Homo sapiens: one gene and its partner. The protein of the gene in region 2 purifies or fractionates together with the protein of the main gene of each other region. This does not show direct contact. Each region holds a gene or a part of one and is shown on either strand. Other genes may lie near its edges.

The links.
Region 1: the proteins of TMEM117 (region 2) and TSPAN14 fractionate together in Homo sapiens (co-fractionation; one large-scale study listed by BioGRID). This does not show direct contact.

The regions. Positions count from the first base shown.
Region 1 is NC_000010.11:80,509,810-80,513,309, forward strand, and holds part of TSPAN14 (tetraspanin-14), read left to right. Parts: intron 1-2,334; coding exon 2,335-2,460; intron 2,461-3,500. UniProt on the Homo sapiens protein: Part of TspanC8 subgroup, composed of 6 members that interact with the transmembrane metalloprotease ADAM10.
Region 2 is NC_000012.12:43,839,081-43,842,580, reverse strand, and holds part of TMEM117 (transmembrane protein 117), read right to left. Parts: intron 1-3,500. UniProt on the Homo sapiens protein: Involved in endoplasmic reticulum (ER) stress-induced cell death pathway.

The DNA.
Region 1 (3,500 bases), on a different chromosome or scaffold from region 2:
GCATACCGTAAGGCACAGCTTCTTCCCCCCGGCTCATGACTCACCATCTGACGCTATTCCTATCCCCTTCCTCCCCGGGACCTTTTCCCCTTCCTCCCTGGGACCTTTTCCCCTTCCTGTTTAAGAAGCCAGGGCTGCCTGGAGGAAGCTTTGTCAGATCTAGTGGAATGTGACCTCCCTGGAATATGTGCCCAGGGGTTTGTCTAAGCAGTTCCAGGCTATGGCCTTTACTCCATCTGGTCCCCATCCCTCTTATCTCTCTCATGTGTGGCTGCACCTGGACGCTTGGACCATAGCTGTCACAGCCCCCTGGGGAGGAACCCACTCCTTGGCCATGTCAGCCTGTGCAATGCAAGGCTCTTGTTTGATCTGTGTGCTGACAGAAAGCCCAGCTTCCTTAAGAACTTTTCATGTGGAACACTTTGGTTTTGAGAAGAAAATAAATCAGAAACCATTAAAAATCTATGATTCACTCTCATTATTAACCAAAACTTGTTCACCTTTATTTCATGTATTATGGGATCCAGCAAAACCCATTTATGGGACCAAAGACCCTGCCTGTATTGTTATTACTAATGTGTATTAGTCTGTGAAAGTCACCAAATCCCCGCCATGTTTTGATGCCTCTCCTTTCTTTTCTGTTCAGTGCCACCGTCCTTTTTTCATTTTCACGTAGCCTTGGCTTGCCTGGTCTCAGCATGCTAGGTTGCGGTTCATCCCTGCATTGCCTTAAAAACATAGTTTTCTGCATTGACTTCTTTTTCTTTTAAAAATAAAACTTCTGGCCGGGCGCGGTGACTCACGCCTGTAATCCCAGCACTTTGGGAGGCTGAGGCGGGTGGATCACAAGGTCAGGAGATCGAGACCATCCTGGCTAACATGGTGAAACCCCATCTCTACTAAAAATACAAAAAATTAGTGGGGTGTGGCGGTGGGCACCTGTAGTCCCAGCTACTCGGGAGGCTGAGGCAGGAGAATGGTGTGAACCCGGGAGGCGGAACTGGCAGTGAGCCGAGATCACGCCACTGCAGTCCAGCCTGGTCAACAGAGCAAGACTCCGTCTCAAAAAAAAGATAAAATAAATAAATTAAAACAAAACAAAACAAAACTTCCCAGGGGAGGGATTCAGTAAATTACAGAGCTTCCTTGGAGTGAAATTTCAGGTAATCACTAAAGCAAGTGGAACCGTGGAGGTGTGGGGGAGACAATTTTACCTGAGAAGTAAGCAAAACAAAATAACCAACCAGAAATCACTGTTGTCATTTGTTGTGATTATTGCCATAACCATGTCAGCTGTAAGGGCAAATGCAAAGAAGTTTTTTAGGGGAAAAGACACTGTCAACTTCACAATGATGCTTTCAGTGTTTGGATTTTACACACTTTTTAGTCAAATAAGGATTTTCTTTGTAGCCACACCAGATGCGAGGAAGGGGAGGGCAGAGGCCCCAGGTGTGGGGCAGAGCTTTGATTGTGTTACCTTTCACCTTCATCGGACCTCTTTTCCTCAGGAGCAGACACTTAGCAGCTGTTTTTTGTAAAGGGGTGAAAAGGGGAATTCACTTGCAAGTTTCTCAGGGAGGAAGAACACTGCACACTAGGAAGTGTTCTCTTGTGGCAAGTAGAGGACCACACCAAGGTGCCGAGGGGGCCACAAAGGAGAGGACGCCACTCTCCTGTCTGAGGAGGCTGGAAGGAGGCGTCTCCTTTGAGGAGGCTGGGAAGAAGAGCAAGCTCCCTGCTAAGGAGGGCCAGGGCTGGGTATGTTGTGCCTGGCAGTGGGGCCAGAGGGCTCCACTGAGCCAGCCATGTGGGTTGGACAGAGGAGGCACCGTGGCCCGGAGATACCTTCACTGCCATTTCCTTTTTGTTATTATTTTCTTTAACACATCAAAAGGGCAGGTCCTCTCTCTCTCTCTCTCTCTCTCTCTCTCTCTCTCTCTCTCTCTCTCTCTCTCTCTCTCTCCCCTTTTTTCTTTCTCTCCTTTTCTCTTTCTCTCTCTCTTTCCTTTCTTTCTTTCTGATTGGGGGTGGGGGTCTTGCTGTGTTGCCCAGACTTGTTTCCAACTCCTGGGCTCAAACCATCTTCCCACCTCAACCTCCCGAGTCACTGAGGTTACAGGCCTGAGCTACTACGCCTAGCTGTTTTCTTCTTAAAGGGCTGCCTGGGTTGCCAGCTTAGCATCTCTGCACATGGGAGGTAGGGGGCGGGCCTTGATTTCTCTGCATGGTAGATGCCGGCAGACTTAGCCTGGCATCACTATGAATGATGCCCTATGCTGGGCAGCCATGGCCCTGTCTTGGAGCCCCTAACAGTTCTGGCTTTTGTGGTTGCAGAACCAGTGCTGTGGCGCATATGGCCCTGAAGACTGGGACCTCAACGTCTACTTCAATTGCAGCGGTGCCAGCTACAGCCGAGAGAAGTGCGGGGTCCCCTTCTCCTGCTGCGTGCCAGATCCTGCGGTGAGTTGGCTTGTGCTGGGGCACAGGGAGCCCGCCCTTCCTGAAGCCCAGAAGCTTTCCTGACTCCTCCAGTGCTCTAGGATACTTCTCTGTCATGGAGGTCTGAGGAGCAGGTGTGCTTTCTCCACACCCTCCTCAAGGCTGCCTCAGCTCTGAAATCCGATATGTGTACATTCTAGGAACACTGCTTGCATGACCCACCCTGGCCTTGGTGTTCTGGGTGAGGCAGGAGAAAAACAGTATTATTTCTACCTGGAGGGCTGTCACTTGCAGCTGGCCAAGAGCTATGAGTGAAATAAGGCCCGCTTATCCCTCTTCCCTGTCCTTTTTCTGGAGCAGATTCCTAGAACTCAACAGTGCACGGGGGCTGTGGGTACACATCATTAACTGGGGAACAGTAGTGGAGAATTATTTTCTTTCTTTTTCTCTTTCTTTTATTTTTGAGACAGGGTCTTGCTGTGTCGCCCAGGCTGGAGTGTAGTGGCATGATCTTGGCTCACTGGAACCTCTGTCTCCTGGGTTCAAGCGATTCTCCTGCCTCAGCCTCCTGAGTAGCTGGGATTACAGGTGCACGCCACCACACCCGGCTAATTATTTTCTGTTTGTTGTTGTTGTTGTTGTTGTTGTTGTTTGGTTTTATTTTAGAGACAGTGTCTCACTCTGTCACTCAGGCTGGAGTGCAGTGGTGCGATCTCAGCTCACTGTACAACCATTGCTTCCCCGGGCTCAAGCAATTCTCCAGCCTCAACCTCCCAAGTAGCTGGGACCACAGGCTTGAGCACCACACCTGGCTAATTTTTGTATTTTTTGTAGAGATGGGGTTTCACCATGTTGCCCCGGCTGGTCTTAAACTCCTGGGCTCAAAGCGATCTGCCCATCTTAGCCTCCCAAAGTGCTGGGATTACAGGTGTGGGCCGCTGTGCCTGTCCTGTCCTTTCTTTACCTATTGGCATTCCCAATCCAAGGCCAACGTCCTTGGGTTCCAGAAGCTGGGTTCTTGGGGTGAACTGTGAAGGAGCTCTGAATTTTGCCTGAACTGA
Region 2 (3,500 bases):
CAAGGCTCCTGAGTCCCAATCCAATATTCTGGGCTGACGAATGCCAATTCAACCCACAATCTTAGTTAATGAGGACTTGTCATGACTATTTTACAAAAGCAATATAAACATTGGCAATATAAACATTGGCAATAGAATTCAGCCAAGCAAATAGTGACTGTGCCCTGGATTCATAAGCCTTCTAAGCAATTTTAAGTCCCTTGTTATCTTTGTGAACACTCTGAAATCTGTCCCCAGGGGCTGTAGCTTGGACCACCTAGGAATGGTGACTACCTCAAGAGTCTTGTTTTTGTTTTCATATTTTTCAGTATGAGGCTCATCACCTGCTATAGCAGCAGAAACTTATATGTGTGACTCTCACATCAAAGAGAGCAGAGCAAGTAGTGAAGAACAAAAAAAATGAACTTTTATGTGTTTTCATGATATTCAATGTGTAAGAATGCCAGAATAGGTTGGTTTTGAACTCGATTTCACACAACAGTTTTGGAAGTGTCCACAGACCACCACTACAAAAAAAATTCATCACTGGTCACCAGTGAGTCATGAAAAAGAAATAGTTCCCATATGCCCATCAGAACTAGAAAGGAGTATTATTTAAGAAGCTGTTATTACAGGCTGCTGTTGCTTCTTTCGCCAGTGAAGAATTCTGATATGGTTGCTATCACCACCTCCCCTCCCACCATGAACACACAGAATTAAGGCAGTAGGATTTAGAAATACTACTGAAATACCATTATTATCATTCCTATCACTTCATTTTACAGAGAGGAAACTGAGGCTCACATGGACTTTGTAACTGGCCCAAAGTCACCTCTCAGAAGAGCTGTGATCTGAGCCTCTGAGGCTGACTCCAGGGCCTGATCACCATTTCCTGCAGACGGCCAGATCAATTCCAATACATATAATCTTGACTCTTTTTTTAAATACACGCATTTTGGAGGCTAGCACATACTTATTTTCTTGTTGTTTTTAAGTTCGGAAACTTGCTTCGTGGGCTATGTAATGTCCACATGCTCAAGTTAAATTAGAACATTCAAAAAATTTCTGAGACAGCTGTTTCTCTCCAGCATTTATATTATTTAGGGAAGAGAACTATAGCATTGAGCAATAATCCTGCACTAGTACATGATCTTATTTAATTACCACAGTAATGCCATGAATGCTACTATCACTGCCACATTACAGGGAAGAAAACAAAGGCTCAGAGCAGTTGCTGCCTGTTTAATTTATATAACAAGTGGAAACATCAGGATTTGAATCCAGACTTACACCTAGCCCTTAATCTTTCTAATATACCACAAAGCTGGAAGTGTTTCTTCCAGTAAGATATTTCCCATCATGCTTACAGCTCATTCTTTATTTCCACTAACAATTTCAACTAGCAGAACAAAACAGGACTCCATTATTGATCATTTAAGCTGGCTGGAATTTATTCTTGCCTCATAATTCTGAAGTTGAAGTGATATCTTCTAGAGGGTCCCAAATTTCAAACCCTTACATAATAATTTGAATTAAACCTCTGCTTATCCTCACTTCATGACTTCGTACACAGGCTGCAAATGTTTGCCTAGTCCTCTCAGCCCTACTTTCTAGTTCCTTAGGTACCCCAATATTATCCAGAGAACCAAAACTGTTTTCACCTCTGTAGTGCACATAAAACATCTTTACAATCAGTATGATCATTTGGTGTATCTACTGTTAATTTAAATGCAGGCTTGAGGCTGTTCAAATGGACTATGTTACACAGGGCACATAGTCTGCAAAACCTTTCCATTTTTAAAAATTCATTTCTATAACCACAGATGAGAATGAGCTTTTATCTTAGCTCCTGGCTCACTATAGTGAAATTATCTATGTATGTGTTTGTCTCCCTCACTTGATCATAAGCTCCTCAGAGAAGTGGCTGTTTACTGCCAGGGCACAGCACAATACTGGGCTCATACTGGGTGATCAGTAGGCATCTACTGGATGAGCTGAGTGGTACACTCACAAAGAGAAGCTCCCTCATTGTTTAGGTGAGATGAGAAGGTGGAGCAACCTGCCATTCAACTTCCGCTAAGGCAAACAAAGCGAAGAGAAGCAGTGGAGTCCAAGGACTGCATTGATGACGTGGCCAGTAACAATACTAATGCACCCCCCCTCAACTCCCTCTCATTTCAGCACGAGGTGTTAAATTAATATTTCTAAGGCTAACATTTATTAAGCACATACTATATACCAGATACTATGCTGATGAGCTTTACAAGCATCTCTTAAATTTCATAGCAACCCAATGAAGAAAATATTATTTTCCTCATTTTACAAATATTGCAACAGAGACTTAGAGTTCCGTACCTTGTAAAGAATAACAAAATTAATTTATATCAGAGCCACAATTTAAATCCAAGCCACCTGGCTTCAACACTCCATGCAATGCCTTCCACACACAAGGACATAAATTCTAAAATCTTACCCTTTACGTTAGTTAGAAAAATAAAGCCATCTGATATTAAAAAAAAAAATCACAGTACTTCTATTTTGTGCAAAGGCACAAAGGAAACCGCCTGGGGCTGATGTAGAGATGTATCACTAGTTCTGTGTGGCTGGAACACTGGGTGCTTGGGGTTATCCTGTGAGAGTTAAGGATAATTTGGAGCCAGTCCAACAAAGATTATCCAAAAGTGTTGGTCTGTATTTTACTGAAAATAGAGAATTATCAAAAGTTTCAGAGCAAAAGAGTGCTGATCATCATATAAAAGTGATGATGTACAGATTTGTTAATTCCATAATAACATTCATTCATTCATTTGTTCAACATTTACCAGTTGCCTATTTTTTGCCAGGCACTGGCCTATGTGCTAGGGTAACTACCAGACAAAGTCCTGTTGCCATGCATCTGATAGTTTCTTTGAGGGAAACAGATATTAAACAGATAAAAACTAAACACAGTATTTAAGAAAGTTCAAAGAGAAAATTAAAGCAAGGAAAAGTTAACAGGGAGTGTCAGGTGTGAGGGAAGTTGAAGACCTCATTATAAGGTGACATTAGAAGACAGGCATGAAAGAAGGGAGAGAAGACAGCAGCTATCTAGGGAAAGTGTGATCCAGATAGAGGGAACAAAACTTGGAAAGGCCATTGTTGGGTGCACATTTAGAGCAAATTAAGGATCGTTAAGGAGGGCAGTATGACTGGATGGGGAGCAGGTGCAGGGGAGTATGAAAGAGATTAGGTACAGAAGGTAGCATCTGATCATGAGCAGGCCTTGAAGCCCTCGTATGTGGGCTTTCACCCTGAGTGGGACAGGAAGCAGAGGAGGGACACAATCTGACTTATATGACAGAAAGGCCTGTCTGTTTCCTGGTTGAAAATATTTTGTAAGAAAGGAGGGCAAGGAACAGAAGCAGGGAAGCTACTGAGGAAGCCGTTGCCAAAGATGCAGCAACTTGGACCAAGCAGAGAGAAATTAAGGCAGTTTAAACAACTCTGGTTCTGGACACATTCAAAAATAACTAATAAAATTT